2 linked regions of the Homo sapiens genome follow. The protein of the gene in region 1 interacts with the protein of each later gene in a pairwise test. Each region holds a gene or a part of one and is shown on either strand. Other genes may lie near its edges.

Region 1 (8,353 bases):
AATTAGGCGCTCTTAAAATCTCTTTAAGAGGTCACTAGAAGAGAGTGCTTTTTAAAACCTTTATTCCTTTAATGCAAACCATAAAGGTGTGACTAGTTCTATTTCTCCTACCTCTCCTAGGTAGTTATAAAATTTGCATGGCAGTATCTAATTATAGCCTCACGTTGAATTTTGTGATTGATACCTCATCTTCATAAATACACCTTAAGTCTTTAGTTTCAATGGACTTCTTTCTGAAAGTATAGGTTTTATGTTTTTTATAAAGGATTCTGGGGACAAGAAAGGTATGAATAGTATCTAATTTTAAAGTGTGGAAATGAAGCAGTATTTCTTTCTTACCTTCTTCTGGTTACCAATCCTGTTTTTCTGAACAATTCTTAGTATTATTCTTGGCAAGAGCCCCTCTTCTCTCCACATCACAGAGTGAAAGGGACCTTTGTGAATAACTGCCAGTCAGACTGCCTGTGAGCGCATTGCCTACAAATTCCATCCAGGTACCATTTTAGCTACTCTAATTTCCAAAAACAATATGCTAGCACAGCTTCCAGCAGTCATGAATTTACAGACATTTTATGAGTTTGTTTTCATAATTTGGCAAAAAGAAGTGTTTTGCTTTCACTGAGTCCAGTTATGAGAAGTGGAACAACAGCTTCCTCCTTCCCTGACCAAGTGTGAATGTAAAAGAACTTGCAACCACATGTAATGGAAAAATACAGTGGTGAAATATGCCCCCCACCCCTTCCATTTTGGCAAACAGAGTAACATTTGGATGGATTCAGCTTGAGAGACTTGGATATGGAGTGTCACTTTCCTTTCTGAAGGTAGAAACCAGAAACACATTCTTGGCTGAACTGCTTCCTATTGTGGTTATTTTGATTTGTGTGAGGGCTGGAATCTCACTGAGACTGAGCGGAGTCTCGCTCTGTCGCCCAGGCTGGAGTGCAGTGGCTCGATCTCGGCTCACTGCAGGCTCCGCCTCCCGGGTTCAGGCCATTCTCTGGAATCTCACTGTTCTGTTGAGGTTATTTAGCAATCTAGATGTCAAAGCCAATTCAAATTTCATTCTTAACCTTATGGTTTATCCTCTTCAAATAGAAAGGTTGAATCTTTTAAAATTATCCGTGTTGATGCCATGTGGTGCTCAGGGAACCATCCAGTCCAATCTTACTACCACTTTTTTCTTGCTGCTGACAAGCCAGTCCAATCCTACTACCATGCTTCTTCCTGTGAACAAGCCAGGCCAATCCTACTACCGTTCTTCTTCCTACAGACAAGCCATGCCAATCCCACTACCACTCTTCTTCCTACGAACAAGCCAGGCCAATCCTACTACCGCTCTTTTCTTCCCACCTGCAGCTAGTTCTTTTCGCACCTTGGCAAGGTAAGTTCTTTGGTTTTTGCATGACTAGGAAGAGTGGTAGCTTCTCATTTTATTCTGTCCTTGGCGAGAGCTTAAATGCTTTAGTCCGAAGTAGCCTGACTAGATTGTCTGGGGCCTTGTAAAGCCTGCTACCAGAGCATCATCACATGGCTCATTTTGGAGTCCAAGGGGGTTTGGGAAACCAGACTCCTCCAGGAGAGGTTTACCTCAGCGTAAAACCAGGTGGCTCATCTGTCAGATCTTAACACTGGGCCCCTGCTGTCTGTTATCATCCCTAATTTGTGCCTTCTGTGCAGGGTCATGAGCCCAGTTCCATATATATGAATGTATAACCTGACCTAAATACCTTTCTCCTGAGTGGAGAGTAAGGTAGTCTTTGGCAATACGTGCCACACCTGAGGGGAGCCTCTCATCCTTCTTTTCAAGCTTCTGGTTTGACGGGAACTCTGGAGACAGGGTTGAAAACAGATCCCTGAGCTGGGGGTAGTCAAGGCTGACGGAGTTGCCAGTCTAATGACTCTTGACTTTCTGCCACTACCTACCTTCTTCCATCAGCTGGGTGGAAATATAGTAGGAAACTTTGACCACATTGCTAGATGGAGACTATGCTGGCCATACAAGGTGAGCCCTGTGTGAATATACATGGCCTAGCTGCCCTGTGTGGTGTTGGTCTCTTACGGCAGCTGTCTTTGTCCAGCTTGGAACAACTGTTCCCACTTGCATCAGGTGGACAGACTGGTAGGGTCACCAGTGCAAAAACTTTGATGTCATTTTTTTCCGAGACAGAGTTACACTCTTGTTGCCCAGGCTGGAGTACAATGTATGATCTCGGCTCACTGCAACCTCCACCTCCCAGGTTCAAGCAATTCTCCTGCCTCAGCCTTCCAAGTAGCAGGGATTACAGGCATGCACCACCACACCTGGCTAATTTTTTGTATTTTTAGTAGAGACAAGGTTTCGCCATGTTGGTCAGGCTGGTCTCGAACTCCTGACCTCAGGTGATGCGCCCACCTTGGTCTCCCAAGGTGCTGGGATTACAGGCATGAGCCACTGTGCCTGGCTGTTGTCATTTTTGACATGGGAAAAGAACCACTGGGAGCTACTCACAGGCTCTCCTGTTTCAGTAGTGTTTTTGGAACTCCTGGCTTCCCCTGAACTTTGCTCCAGGGAGGGATTAATCATGATGGCAAAGACTCAGGATGTAACAGGACAGTAATTAATTAACCAGGATCTGTCTCCCACTTGGATGAGTTGGCTGATGCCAGCATCCTGTAAGTACAATATCTGAACCAAGAGTGAATAATGTGGGTGAGAGTTGATGTAGGAGACGATGACCAGTGGAGCAGCTGCTTGAGTGCCGTCCCCTCATCTTTTCCTTATTTCCTGGGACCCTGCCTGGTGGAGGATCCCAGGTGGACTTGTGAGTCCCTGGTGGACGCATGCCTTTCCAGGTGTGGTCTTCATCCTGCCTGGGTTGTAGGAAGGCTCTGGGCTACTCTAGGATTGGCTGTCTTGCCTTCCTGTTCTTGAAATGGGTTGTGCTTGAGGCAAGGAGTTTCTACCTCTGAAGATGTTCAGCTGGAGGCACAGCTGTCAGCTGCTAGAGAGGAGATTCATGTCTGCATAATAACTTTACAGCTCTGATAAAGTCTGGATTTGATGACTTACATCGCCTGAGTGTGTAGGATTCTGTGCTCCTTGCCTTCCCTAATACAACTTAACACTTTCTAGATTTAGTTATGTGCTTGCTTTGTTTTTAGTAAATGTGTGTGTATATGTATTTTTTTTTTTTCAATTTTAGGTTGTTGAGGCATCTTCATTAAGCTGGAGTACCAGGATAAAAGGCTTCATTGCGTGTTTTGCTATAGGAATTCTCTGCTCACTGCTGGTAAGATTTCCCTTCCTCCTCTGTCTTTTCCTTCTACCTGTCTTTGCTATATATTCCCCCTTTTGTCCACCTCCTTTCCCCTTTTGCCCTTCACTAAAATGCATGGATGAGAGGAGAGGGGAATAAGGGAGGTGGGGAGGGAAACGGACTCCTCAGGGCTTCCTCTGGGAGCTCTGCTTGTGTGGCCGGGTGGGAGGGTTGCTCATGTGCAAACACTGTACTTTAAATTCCAGGGTACTGTTCTGCTGTGGGTGCCCAGGAAGGGACTACACCTCTTCGCAGTGTTTTATACCTTTGGTAATATCGCATCAATTGGGAGGTAACTGTTTTTTAAAAATCCAATTTTAGCCAATCATTAGATGGGAAAATGGATGTTGGTTGCCCTTGAGGGAGGTGAAAGAGGAGGCTCCAGTAGTTGTAAGGAATTTGGAGAGAAGTAGTTAGAATATCTCACATTCATATCTTATTATTTGAAAACATTTTATATCTTAGTTTGAAACACCTGGGAGAAAGCAGCAAATGTTTTGCCATCGTGATTTTACATGTACAGAAACTGCGACACAAAGCAGTTCAGTGATTTCTCCAGGGTTTACAACCCAGTCCTCCTGCTTGCTGTATTCTTACTGCTGTCAGAGATTGAGTTGATGGTTTTCAAAGGGCTCATCACTCCAGTGGCCATAAGGGAAACTGGTTTTTATTTAGTGTCAGACCTTCCCAGACCTGAGTAGCAGCTCATGTGGGCAGGGCATCTGAGCGCTTCCTGGAGGTGGGCAGCCCATTCTGCATGTTGTGGATGCACACATTTTCCAGGTCAAGCTCATTCACACTGATGCTTCAGTCACACTGGTGCCAACAACTCCACCCTCTCCAACTGGGAGCACTGGCCTGGCCTCTACCTGAATGACCTGCAGGAACCTGAGCTCAGTCATCTTGTTTCCCCCTTTTCCCTTCCCTTGTGTCTCTGTAAATGGCTTCAGAGTCCTGGGGGTCCAAGTCTCCCCTCCATGATTCCTCACCAGGGCTTGATGTAACCCTGTCTTACTGGCTCCTTCCTCTTTGTCCCCATGGCTGTTTGTGCTTCACTGACTGACTTGCATGCTCAATGGGTAAGCATTGATCACACTCTGTGCTGGGCTCAGAGGATACAAAGACAAGTCCAGTTTGGTCCCTGCCAGGCAGACAGACATATAACTCATGATATAACAAGATATGGAAAGAAATTCTCAAGGAGGGGCAGCCGACACGACCTGAGTCAGGGAGGGCTTCCTAGAGAAGGTGATATCTGAGCTGGCCTTAGCTTTGGCCTGTTATCACCCTTACCTGAGCAAGATGCATCTGCTTGGTCTCTCTGTCTCCTCCATTGCCCCTCTCAAGGCCATTTTCCACTGAGCTGTAGAGCCATTCGTTTATAGCCCTGCTTAGCCCCCTCAAGTGGCCCCCTGTTTTGTCTGTACAAATGAAGTCCAAATTCCTCAGCACGCATACAGTCAAGCGTCTTTGAGATCTGGCTTCACCGTTGTCCCATTCCCTATCCAGTGTGCTTCCCAGCCAGGCTGAACTTCTTGCATTTCCCAAAATGCCGTTGTGCCCTTGTTTGGTTGTTTTCTGTGCCTGGAATGCTGCCCTATCTGTACCTCCCCTGGTTTGGTAGATACTTGCTCATTTGTTAAGACCTGGCTCAAAAGCTACCTCTTCTATGAAGCTTTTCCTGATTACCTCCTCCTCTCCAGAATTGATGACCTCTTCCTTTGGACTCTCAGTATCACATCTATATTTATGTGCCAGTGCAGGTAGCATTTTATTACACTGACTTGTTAGATCTGTAAGCCACTTGATAAGGGCTGCACGTGTATCTTGTCCCCAGTTGTACCCAAACTTAGCTCTGTGTCTGGCTGGAAATGGGGGATGTTAATTAAATGATTGATTGCATGATTCTGGCTACCTGTGTAAAGCTTAATTTATTAGTGCTTATGACAGTAAAATGCTGACCCTTAGAGATGTCTCTTGTTGCCTGTAAAGCTTTCTCCAATACTAACTTTGGGTGGGGGGGTGTTTTGGGCAGACAGTGTAAGTTACATTGTATAGTCTAGACTGAGCATAAATATATGGGTGTGTTGCTTAGTCTAGAAGAGCTCTTTAGCAAATCCCTATGGGCTGGATTCTTCATAGACTGTGTAGGGAAATAATAAAGGGAGCAAATTGTTATTTTCAGGGTATTTGGGAGTTTGTGTCTTTGCCTGTAGTCTGTTATGGTTTTGTGTATATGCTATGTTTAATTTTTAGGACCAGCCTTGACTGTTGCTTCTTATTCGGTGTAGGTTAAAGAAGTGTTCTCTTAGTTGGGACACTTGAGAGTGAAGCCTTGCAACTTAATGGCACTTCAAAGAGAGGAAGACTTATTGGCCGGGTGTGGTGGCTCATGCCAAGTTGATGTGTTAGACATGACAGTCTGCTTCATTTGTGATTACTCTTGCTAGCCATCTCTCAAGTTCATTCATACAGAAAGCATGCTGGGGGCCAGGCGCAGTGGCTCACGCCTATAATTCCAGCACTTTGGGAGGCCGAGTTGGGCGGATCACGAGGTCAAGAGATCGAGACCATCCTGGCCAACATGGTGAAACTGTCTCTACTAAAAATACAAAAATTAGCTGGGTGTGGTGGCGTGTGCCTGTAGTCCCAGCTACTTGGGAGGCTGAGGCAGGAGAATCACTTGAACCCAGGAGGTGGAGGTTGCAATGAGCCGAGATTGCATCACTGCACTCCAGCCTGGCGACAGAGTGAGACTCCATGTCAAAAAAAAAAAAACAAACAAAAAAAACCCAGCATGCTGGGTCTGTCTTTTTAGAGCTTTGGAATCCAATAGCTATAGAGTCAAATGGTAGCTGTGTGATTTTCTCGTCTCTAAAATAAGTGTAATACATAACTCACAAAGTTGTTGAGGAGAAGAAATGAGGTAATATATGTAATATCTGGCATTTAGCAAACATTCAACAAATAACCCATGATGATATCATCATCATTAGAATTATTCCCTGAAGATTATGAAAGAAAATGAAATGCTCTACTTTTTAACATAAGCTACCTAAGCCTGTAAGGTATGGTTTTTCTTTAAACTTCCTGAGCCTTGTTTGTTTCCATGAGTAGTTATTGTCAGGGAGGCAAGGTAACACCTCTCAAGGAGAAGGCTTATCCAACCTAGTGGTATGATATGATTCTACAGTAACACCCACATGCATTTACAGCCTGGGTCTATCATTCCCTAGTTGGGTGGCCTTGGATAAAGTAACTCTGTGGGCTTTGGTGTGGTAATTGTTCCTACTTTATAGGTTGGTTGTTGATGGATTAAATGAGAAAAATGCACGAAAGGCCCTTCAGCACAGTCAGAATGAGAGCTTTTCAAATGTTAGCTACTATTGCCACAGGAAATCTTGGGGAGGCGACTCAGTGTGCCTAGTGCAGTTCTGTTCTGAACGGCTTGTGTGCGTGTGTTTGCCTTTTAGTACCATCTTCCTCATGGGACCAGTGAAACAGCTGAAGCGAATGTTTGAGCCTACTCGTTTGATTGCAACTATCATGGTGCTGGTAAGGTCTGCTTTTTAGCTGGACTTCTCAGATGGGAGTTTTTATTTCTATTGTATAGGATGTTTTTCTTTTTAAATCTAAAGACCTCTTCTCTTTTTCCGTTCAGCTTGACTTATTACCCTATTCCTATAACCATGTGGCAGAAGGGAACACTCTAAGTAATACTACGATCCCCTCCTCCCCTACTTTGTGTTTCAGTGGGTGTCAAGGTGCTACCAGTTCTGAAAAGCACCTCTAGAGGGCATTGCTTGTCAGATGAGCCACAGTGGTGTGGTGGTAGTAAGGGAGCTCAGACACCTTCCTGGTGACTGTGGAAGCCACACACAGGCAGGGCTTAGAGGGAATAACTCAGAAACACAGGACTCATTCTCTAGGGTGGGTGTCCTGTCTTATAGAATGGCCTCTTTATTCCTCATTATCTGACTTGGGGACTTATTACTGTTTTTCATCAGTCTCCCCAAAGTGGGAGTGGCCTCCTTATGGCCTGTCATCCTTGTACCCTGCTCTGACAACATTGTCTTTAGCTTTGTTGTATCTTCCTGTTCCATTGACCCTAAATGCCTCTCATTTTTGGCCTATTTTCTTCCCTGTGGTTGTCAAAATCATTCCAGACCTACATTCTCTGGACTTTTATAGCTATTGCAACATTTGGAACTTGAAGAACATACTTTTATTTTTAGTTTCATTTATATAATCTCATTTGTTCAAATAGGTGAGTTATCAAAAGCTGTGACCACATTTCCTGTTTATTTTGTGTCCTTTTAGAGTATTGGGCACAATGCTGGACACAGAGAATATTTAGGACATATTTGAGTAGTTATTGTTATAGAAGGATGGCGAAGAAAGGCATGGCTGACTGCTCTAGCACCAGTTGTCCTTGGCCAGCCTCAGATGCCCACGGCCTGGACAAGTCTCTTGCAGAAAGAGCTTTCTAAGAATGGCCTTAGGGAAAGTGTTAGGTGATAGGTACACAAGTAACTGGCATGCTGACTGTGAGATTGATATCTCAGGTTAACCTTTGTCCTCACATGTGCTTTCTGCTGCAGAGACTAGCATTTGGTAGGAGTTAAAATAGAAAGATTTGTGTTAAGCTTACTTTAGTGCATTTGAATGAAAAGATGGATGGACGGATGAATGGGTGGGCCTGAAATGTGATTTGTTTGCTGGGCAGAGGTTCTGGGAAAACTTGAAAGTAAAAGAACATCTTATCTATGTGAATCTTTATTGGCTAGTTTGATTTCATGGAGATTTTTAACTATTCTGCCAAATATGGGTGCTCAGGTGGGTTAACTGCTTTGAGATGAAGGATGCATAAGTTTTGTGCATTTGTGAAGAATAACAAGTTTTGAGTTTTTTTTTTCCTGCCATGTTATTGTCATTAATTAATGTTTCCTTTCTTCCTTTAGTTGTGTTTTGCACTTACCCTGTGTTCTGCCTTTTGGGTAAATGTATATTTTAATTTTTCTTAACCATTTTGGCTTTTGCCCCTTGTCTCACACTCT
Region 2 (7,961 bases), on another chromosome or scaffold:
GCTGGTAGTGAGCTGAGATTACACCACTGCACTCCAGCCTGGGTGACAGAGCGAGACTCCATCTCAAAAAATAAATAAATAAATAAATAAATAAATAATTGATCTGGGGTCGGGTGTGGTGGCTCATGCCTGTAATCCCAGTGCTTTGGAAGGCTGAAGTGGGAGTATTGCTTGACACCAGGAGCTCAAGACCAGCCTGGGCAACACAGTGAGATCCTGTCTCTACTAAAAATTAAAAAAAAAATTAGCCAGGCATCGTGGCACACGCCTGTGTTCCCAGCTACTTGGGAGGCTGAGGCGAGAGGATTGCCTGAGCCTGCAATGGCGAGGCCACAGTGACCTGTGATGGCATCACTGCACTCCAGCCAGGGCAACAGAGTGAGACCCTGTCTCAAAGATAAATAAACAACTATTTCAAAAATTGATATATAATCCACACACCCTAAAACTCGCCCTTTGAAGTGTACGATTCATTGGTTTTTAATACATTCACAAGGTTGGGCAAATACTACCTTCATCTAATTTCAGGACATTTTCTGTTTTTTGAGACAGAATCTCCTTCTGTTGCCCAGGCTGGAGTGCAGTGGTGCGATCTCGGCTCACTGCAAACTTCCTTTGCCCCTGGGGAGCTTAAGTGGGTGGTGGGACAGGCAGCGAGACCCATTAGAGAACACAAGAGGCCAAGGCTTGAGATAGAGTGGAGGGGGCCGGAGAATACTAGTCAGAAGTTGCTGCTAGGGGCCGGGCTCAGTAGCTCACGCTTGTAATCCCAACACTTTGGGAGGCTGGGCAGGGCGGATCACTTGAGGTCAGGAGTTCAAGACCAGCCTGGCCAACATGGTGAAACCCTGTCTCTACTAAAAATACAAAAAAATTAGCCAGGCGTGGTGGTGAGCGCCTGTAATCCCAGCTACTAGGGAGGCTGAGGCAGGAGAATCACTCGAACCCAGGAGGTGGAGGTTGCAGTGAGCCAAGATCATGCCATTGTACTCCAGCCTGGGTGACAGAGCAACACTCCATCTCAAAACAAAAAACAGAAGCCATACCTATGCATGCCCAAGAGGAGAAATCAAGGCAGGCTTCCTGAAGGAGGTGTCATTAGCTTCCAAAAGCAGGTGAGGCTAGGGAAATCATTCGAAGCAGGTAGGCCCATGAAGCAGAGGTGTAGAGAGTGGCATCGGGACTCCAAGTACCCTAGGCCACCCCCCAGTCCCCTCATGGGTACCTCTGGCTTGGGCGGCTCCTTCTCGGGGCCCTGGAGCTGCTTCTGGTTCCAGCTGAGCCACATCTGGTGCAGCTTCTCCTGGCCTTCCACCAGCTTCTGATCAACGCCTTGCTTGACAGTTTCCATCTGGGGCAGGGGAGAGAGAAGTGAGGGAAGGAGGCTCCCCTGGGAGAGACGGGATTCCAGAAGGAACCCAAGGAATCCTTCCAGCATCTGACTTACATGACAGTCTAGAAAAGAGAAAGGGAGGGAGGGAGGAAGGGTTTCCTGGCTACGGTGAGCTCTGGGGCCTTTGGTTTAATCATTGACATACTCAGGCTCTGTGTGGTTGGTGCAAAGAAGGGCTGCACATCCCCTGTAGCTCTTCCCATTGTGTCAATTTCTCCTGCGCTTGCAAGGGAGCCTGGACACGTGGCTGGCTTTGGCCAATGGGACATGAGCAGATGGAACCAGCAAAGGCTTAAAAAGTGCTTGTAGGCTGGGCATGGTGGCTCACACCTGTAATCCCAGCACTTTGGGAGGTTGAGGTGGGTGGATCACCTGAGTTCAGGAGTTCGAGACCAGCCTAACCAACATGGTGAAACCCCGTCTCTACTAAAAATACAAAAATTAGCCAGGTGTGGTGGTGCACATCTGTAGTCCCAGCTACTCAGGAGGCTGAGGCACGAGAATCGCTTGAACCTGGGAGGCGGAGGTTGCAGTGAGCTGAGATTGCGCCACTGCACTCCAGCCTGGGTGACAGAGCCAGACTCTATCTCAAAACAACAAAAAACAAAAAACAAAAAAAAGTGCTTGTAATGAAATATGACTCAGCCTTCCAAAGGAACGAAGCAGGCTGACTTCTGCAATCCCAGCGCTTTGGGAGGCCAAGGGGGTTGGATCAGTTGAGCTCAGTAGCTCCAGAACAGCATAGGCAACACAGTGACATCTCATCTCTACATATTACATAAAGTTTAAGAGAAAAGAAAAATAGTCGGCCGAGCGCAGTGGCTCACACCTGTAATCCCAGCACTTTGGGAGGCCGAGGCGGGTGGATCACGAGGTGAGGAGATCGAGACCATCCTGGCTAACACGGTGAAACCCCATCTCTACTAAAAATACAAAAAATTAGCCCAGCGTGGTGGTGGGCGCCTGTAGTCCCAGCTACTCGGGAGGCTGAGGCAAGAGAATGGTGTGAACCAAGGAGGCAGAGCTTGCAGTGAGCAGAGACTGCATGCCACTGCACTCCAGCCTGGGTGACAGAGCGAGACTCCGTCTCAAAAAAAAAAAAAAAAAGGCCGGGCGCGGTGGCTCACGCCTGTAATTCCAGCACTTTGGGAGGCCGAGGCGGGCGGATCAAGAGGTCAGGAGATCAAGACCATCCTGGCTAACACTGTGAAACCCCATCTCTACTAAAAATAGAAAAGAAAATTAGCCAGGCATGGTGGCCGGCGCCTGTAGTCCCAGCTACCAGAAGGCTGAGGCAGGAGAATGGCATGAACCCAGGAGGCGGAGCTTGCAGTGAGCTGAGATCGCGCCACAAAAAGAAAAGAAAAATAAATAAAGAGGAATGATGGCAGACATATGCTCCAAGATGGGTGCACCTAAGAGGCTGCAGTGAGCCATGATCATCCACTCCAGCCTGGGCAACAGAGTGAGCCCCTGTCTCTGGAAAAAAAAAAAAAAAAATCGTCATAAAGGTAAATGAAGCTATCCATTAGGGTGGGCTCCAATCCATAAAGGGCTGGTCTCCTTCAATAAGGAGATTAGAGCTGTGCGTGGTGGCTCGTGTCTGTAATCCCAGCACTTTGGGAGGCTGAGGTGGGTGGATCACTTGAGGTCAGGAGTTTGAGACCAGCCCGGCCAACATAGTGAAACCCCATCTCTACTAAAAATACAAAAATTAGCCAGGCATGGTGGCAAGTGCCTGTGATCCCAGCTACTCGGGACGTGGAGGCCCAAGAATCACTTGAACCCGGGAAGTGGAGGTTGCAGTGATCTGAGATTGCACCACTACACTCCCGCCTGGGCAACAGAGCGAGACTCCGTTCAAAGAAAAAAAAGAGATTAGGACACAGACATACACAGAGGGAAGGGACGACCACGTGAATACACAGAGAGAAGATGGCTGTCTACGAGTCAAGGAGAGAGGCCCCAGAAGGACACTCTGATCTTGGACTTCCAGCCTCCAGAAATGTGAGAAAATAAATATCTGTTGTTTACATTTCCCAGACAGTACGAATTTTTTTTTTTTTTTTTTGAGATGGAGTCTCACTCTTGTCACCCAGGCTGGAGAGCAGTAGCATGATCTCGGCTCACTGCAATCTCTGCCGCCCGGGTTCAAGCGATTCTCCTGCCTCAGCCTCCTGAGTAGCTGGGATTACAGGTGCCTGCCATTGTACCTGGCTAATTTTTGTATTTTTAGTAGAGATGGGGTTTCACCATGTTGGCCAGGCTGGTCTTGAACTCCTGACCTCGTGATCCACCCGCCTCAGCCTCCCAAAGTGCTGGGATTACAGGCATGAGCCACCGCACCTGGCCACGATTTTTTTTTTTTTTTTGAGATGGGGTCTTGCTCTGTTGACTAGGCTGCAGTGCAGTGGCACAATCATAGCTCACTGCAGCCTCCAACTCCTGGGCTCAAGCAATCGTCCCACCTCAGCCTCCCAAGTAGCTGAGATTACAGGCACGCACCACCACAGCCAGCTAATTGTTTTAAATTATTTTTTGTAGAGATGGGGTCTTGCTATATTGCCCAGGTGGGTCTCAAACCCCTGGACTCATGCGATCCTCCTGCCTTGGGCTCCCAAAGCACTTGAGGGACTCACACAAAGAGGTGTGAGCCACTGTGCCCGGCCCCAGACAGTGTGGTTTGTGGCAGCATCCTGAGCAAATGAGTGTACAACCAGATACAGTGCCAGGAGCAAGCGGGAATGGCCCTGCCAGCCTGCAGAGGGGTGAGCAATAAGCCACTGAGCTCTGGGTGGGTGTCTGCTGCGGGGTGAAGGCTGCTGGCTCAGGGCCCCGACCCCCTGGAACCTCACCAGGCTTAGGACCTGCGACAGCTGCAGCAGAGCCTCCTGTGCCCTCTGCTTGGTGGCTCGAAGCTTGCCCAGCGAGTGCTCATAGGCGTGCTGCCGCAGCCTCTCCGACAGGGAGCCCAGACGTACGAAGTAGCTCTGTTCCTGCCGCTGCTGCTGCACGGACGCGACGTCAAAGCCATCCAGGGATGTGGCGATGCGGGCTGCAAGGAAAAGGAGAAGGGTCTCTGTGAAGACCAGAACACACAGCTGGGCTCGTCCCATGCAGACAGTCCCAAGAATCACACTGTCCAGTTTATTTATTTATTTATTTAGAGATGGAGTCTCGCTCTGTCGCCCAGGTTGGAGTGCAGTGGTGTCATCTCGGCTCACTGCAACCTCTGCCTCCCGGGTTCAAGTGATTATCCTGCCTCAGCCTCCCGAGTAACTGAGATTACAGGCGCCCGCCACCATGCCCAGCTAATTTTTGTATTTTTAGTAGAGACGGGGTTTCACCATGTTGGCCAGGCTGGTCTCGAACTCCTGATCTCCAGTGATTCATCCGAACTGGCCTCCAAAAGTGCTGTGATTATAGGCGTGAGCCACCACACCTGGCCATGCTGTCCAGTTTATAACCCAGTTCTACTTCTTATAAACCTCGAAGGCCTGGGAGCAAAGGATTCTGCCTTGGTTTTCCCTATCTGCAAAACGGGGATAAGGAAAATTAAACCTCACAGGAATCAGAGACCTTAGACTAGCAGGAGGGTCTCAAGCTATGGCCTGCAGGCCAGACCTGCCTTGGACAACCTGTGAATATAGGCCTGAATGTTCATTATGCAGTCCTGCAGAGAATAACAGCATTCCAGCCAGCAATACATCACATATACTACAGAGGTCCCATAAGATTATAATACCGTAGGCCGGGTGCAGTGGCTCATGCCAGTAATGCCAGCCCTTTGGGAGGCCAAGGCGGGCAGATCACTTGAGGTCAGGAGTTCAAGACTAGCCTGGCCAACATGGCACTACCCCATCTCTACTAAAAATACAAAAATTAGCCAGGCGTGATGGCACTAGCCTGTAATCTCAGCTACTTAGGAGGCTGAGGCAGGAGAATCGCTTGAACCCGGGAGGTGGAGGCTGCAGTGAGCCAAGATCACACCACTGCACTCCAGCCTGGGTGAGAGTGAGACTCCGTCTCAAAAAAAAAAGAGAATAATGACATTTCAGCCAACAATGGACTGCATATACTACAGTGGTCCCATAAGATTATAATACCATATATACCGTATTTTTCCTGTACTTTTTCTTCTTTTTTTTAGACAGGGTCTCGGTCTGTTGCCCAGGCTGGAGTACAGTGGCACGACCTCAGCTTACTGCAGGCTCAACCTCCCAGCTTCAAGCTATCCTTCAACCTTGGCCTCCCGAGTAGCTGGGACTACATAAAGCTGGGACTACGGCAAGACACCTGGCTAATTTTTGTACTTTTTGTAGGAATGGGGTCTCACTATGTTGCCCAGGCTGGTCTTGAAATCCTGGACTCAAGCAATCTGCTCGCCTCAGACTCCCAAAGTGCTAGGTTTACAGGTGTGAGCCATTGCACCTGGCTTCCTGTACCTTTTCTATGTTTAGATCTGTTTGTTTTGTCGGTTTTTATATTTTGAAGTACAGTCTCGCTCTGTTGCCCAGGCTGGAGTGCAGCGGTGCAATCATAGCTCACTGTAGCCTTGAACTCCCAGGCTCAAGTGATCCTCCTGTCTCAGCTCCCAAATAGCAACTGGGACTACAGGCGTGCACTAGCACACCCAGCTAATTTTTAAATTTTTTGTAGAGATGGGGTCTATGTTGTCCAGGCTGGTCTGGAACTACTGGGCTTAACTAATCCTCCCACCAAAGTGCTGGGATGACAGGTGTGAGCCACCACGCCTGGCCTCATCCCATGTTCGTAGGTTCATATGTGTATATGCATGTATTTATTTACTTATTTATTTATTTATTTATTTTTTTGAGACAGAGTCTCACTCTGTTGCCCAGGCTGGAGTGCAATGGCATGATCTCGGCTCACTGCAACCTCCGCCTCCCGGGTTCAAGTGATTCTCCTGCCTTAGCCTCCTGAGTAGCTGGGATTACAGGAATGTGCCACCATGCTTGGCTAATTTTTGTATTTTTAGTAGAGATGGGGTTTCACCATGTTGGCCAGGCTGGTCTCAAACTCCTGACCATGTGATCCAGCTGCCTCAGCCTCCGAAAGTGCTGGGATTACAGGCATGAGTCACCACACCTGGCCTTTATTTTTTTTGAGATGGAGTTTCACTCTTGTTGCCTGGGCTGGAGTGCAATGGCGCAGTCTTGGCTCACCACAAGCTCTGCCTCCCAGATTCAAGCCATTCTCTTGCCTCAGCCTCCCGAGTTAGCTGGGATTACAGGGATGCGCCACCATGCCTGGCTAATTTTGTATTTTTAGTAGAGATAGGGTTTCTTTATGTTGGTCAGGCTTGTCTCGAACTCCCGACCTCAACCTCCACCCGCCTCAGCCTCCCAAAGTACTGGGATTACAGCCATGAGCCACTGCGCCCAGCTGCATGTATTTATTTAATCCTGCTCCTACTGTACCCATGCTTTTTTTTTTTTGAGATGGAGTCTCACTCTGTCGCCCAGGCTGGAGTGCAGCGGCCCAATCTTGGCTCACTGCAACCTCTGCCTCCCAAGTAGCTGGGATTACAGACGCCTGCCACCGCACCTGGCTAATGTTTATTTTATTATTATTATTTTTTTGAGACGGCGTCTAGCTCTATTGCCCAGGCTGGAGTGGAGTGGCATGATCTCGGCTCACTGCAAGCTCCGCCTCCCAGGTTCATGCCATTCTCCTGCCTCAGTCTCCCGAGTAGCTGGGACTACAGGCACCCGCCACCACGCCCGGCTAATTTTTTTTTTTTTTTTTTTTTTTTTTTTAGTAGAGATGGGGTTTCACTGTGTTAGCCAGGATGGTCTCGATCTCCTGAACCTGTGATCCGCCCGGCCTTGGCCTCCCAAAGTGCTGGGATTACAGGCGTGACCCACCGTGCCCGGCCTAATTTTTGTATTTTTAGTAGAGACCGGGTTTCACCATGTTGGCCAGGCTTGTCTCAAACTCTTGACTTCAGGTGATCTGCCCACCTCGGCCCACCAAAGTGCTGGGATTACAGGCTGAGCCACCGCGCCCTGCCTATATCCTAAGCTACTTATTTGCAAAAATCCCAATCCCCGCACTTTGGGGGGCTAAAGCAGTAGGATCACTCCAGCCAAGGAGTTCTGGATCAGCTGGGATGACAGAGGGAGACCCCGTCTTTACCAAAAATTAAATAAAGAAAAATTAGTTGGGCGTGATGGTGTGTGCTTGTAGTCCCAGCTACTCGGAGGCTGAGATGGGAGGCTCGCCTCAACCCAGGAGTTGGAGGCTGCATTGAGCTATGATCGCACCACTGCACTTCAGCCTGGGCAAGAGAGTGAGACTCTATCTCTAAAACAAATAAATAAAAAAGGGCCGGGCATGGTGGCTCACACCTGTAATCCCAGTACTTGGGGAGGCCGAGGTGGGCAGATCACAAGGTCAGGAGTTCGAGACCAGCCTGGCCAACATAGTGAAACCCCGTTTCTACTAAAAATACAAAAAATTAGCTGTGTGGTGGCAGGTGCCTGTAATCCCAGCTACTCAGGAGGATGAGGCAGGAGACTCGCTTGAACCCAGGAGGCAGAGGTTG

What was found. Proteins that work in one complex are often made in the same cells at the same time.
Region 2: the proteins of SFT2D2 (region 1) and PLIN3 interact in binary tests that used the Homo sapiens proteins (3 or more experiments, as listed by UniProt).

The regions. Positions count from the first base shown.
Region 1 is NC_000001.11:168,228,332-168,236,684, forward strand, and holds part of SFT2D2 (vesicle transport protein SFT2B), read left to right. Parts: intron 1-3,182; coding exon 3,183-3,269; intron 3,270-3,502; coding exon 3,503-3,588; intron 3,589-6,769; coding exon 6,770-6,851; intron 6,852-8,257; coding exon 8,258-8,293; intron 8,294-8,353. UniProt on the Homo sapiens protein: May be involved in fusion of retrograde transport vesicles derived from an endocytic compartment with the Golgi complex.
Region 2 is NC_000019.10:4,843,443-4,851,403, forward strand, and holds part of PLIN3 (perilipin-3), read right to left. Parts: intron 4,449-7,961; coding exon 4,249-4,448; intron 1,352-4,248; coding exon 1,226-1,351; intron 1-1,225. UniProt on the Homo sapiens protein: Structural component of lipid droplets, which is required for the formation and maintenance of lipid storage droplets. Required for the transport of mannose 6-phosphate receptors (MPR) from endosomes to the trans-Golgi network.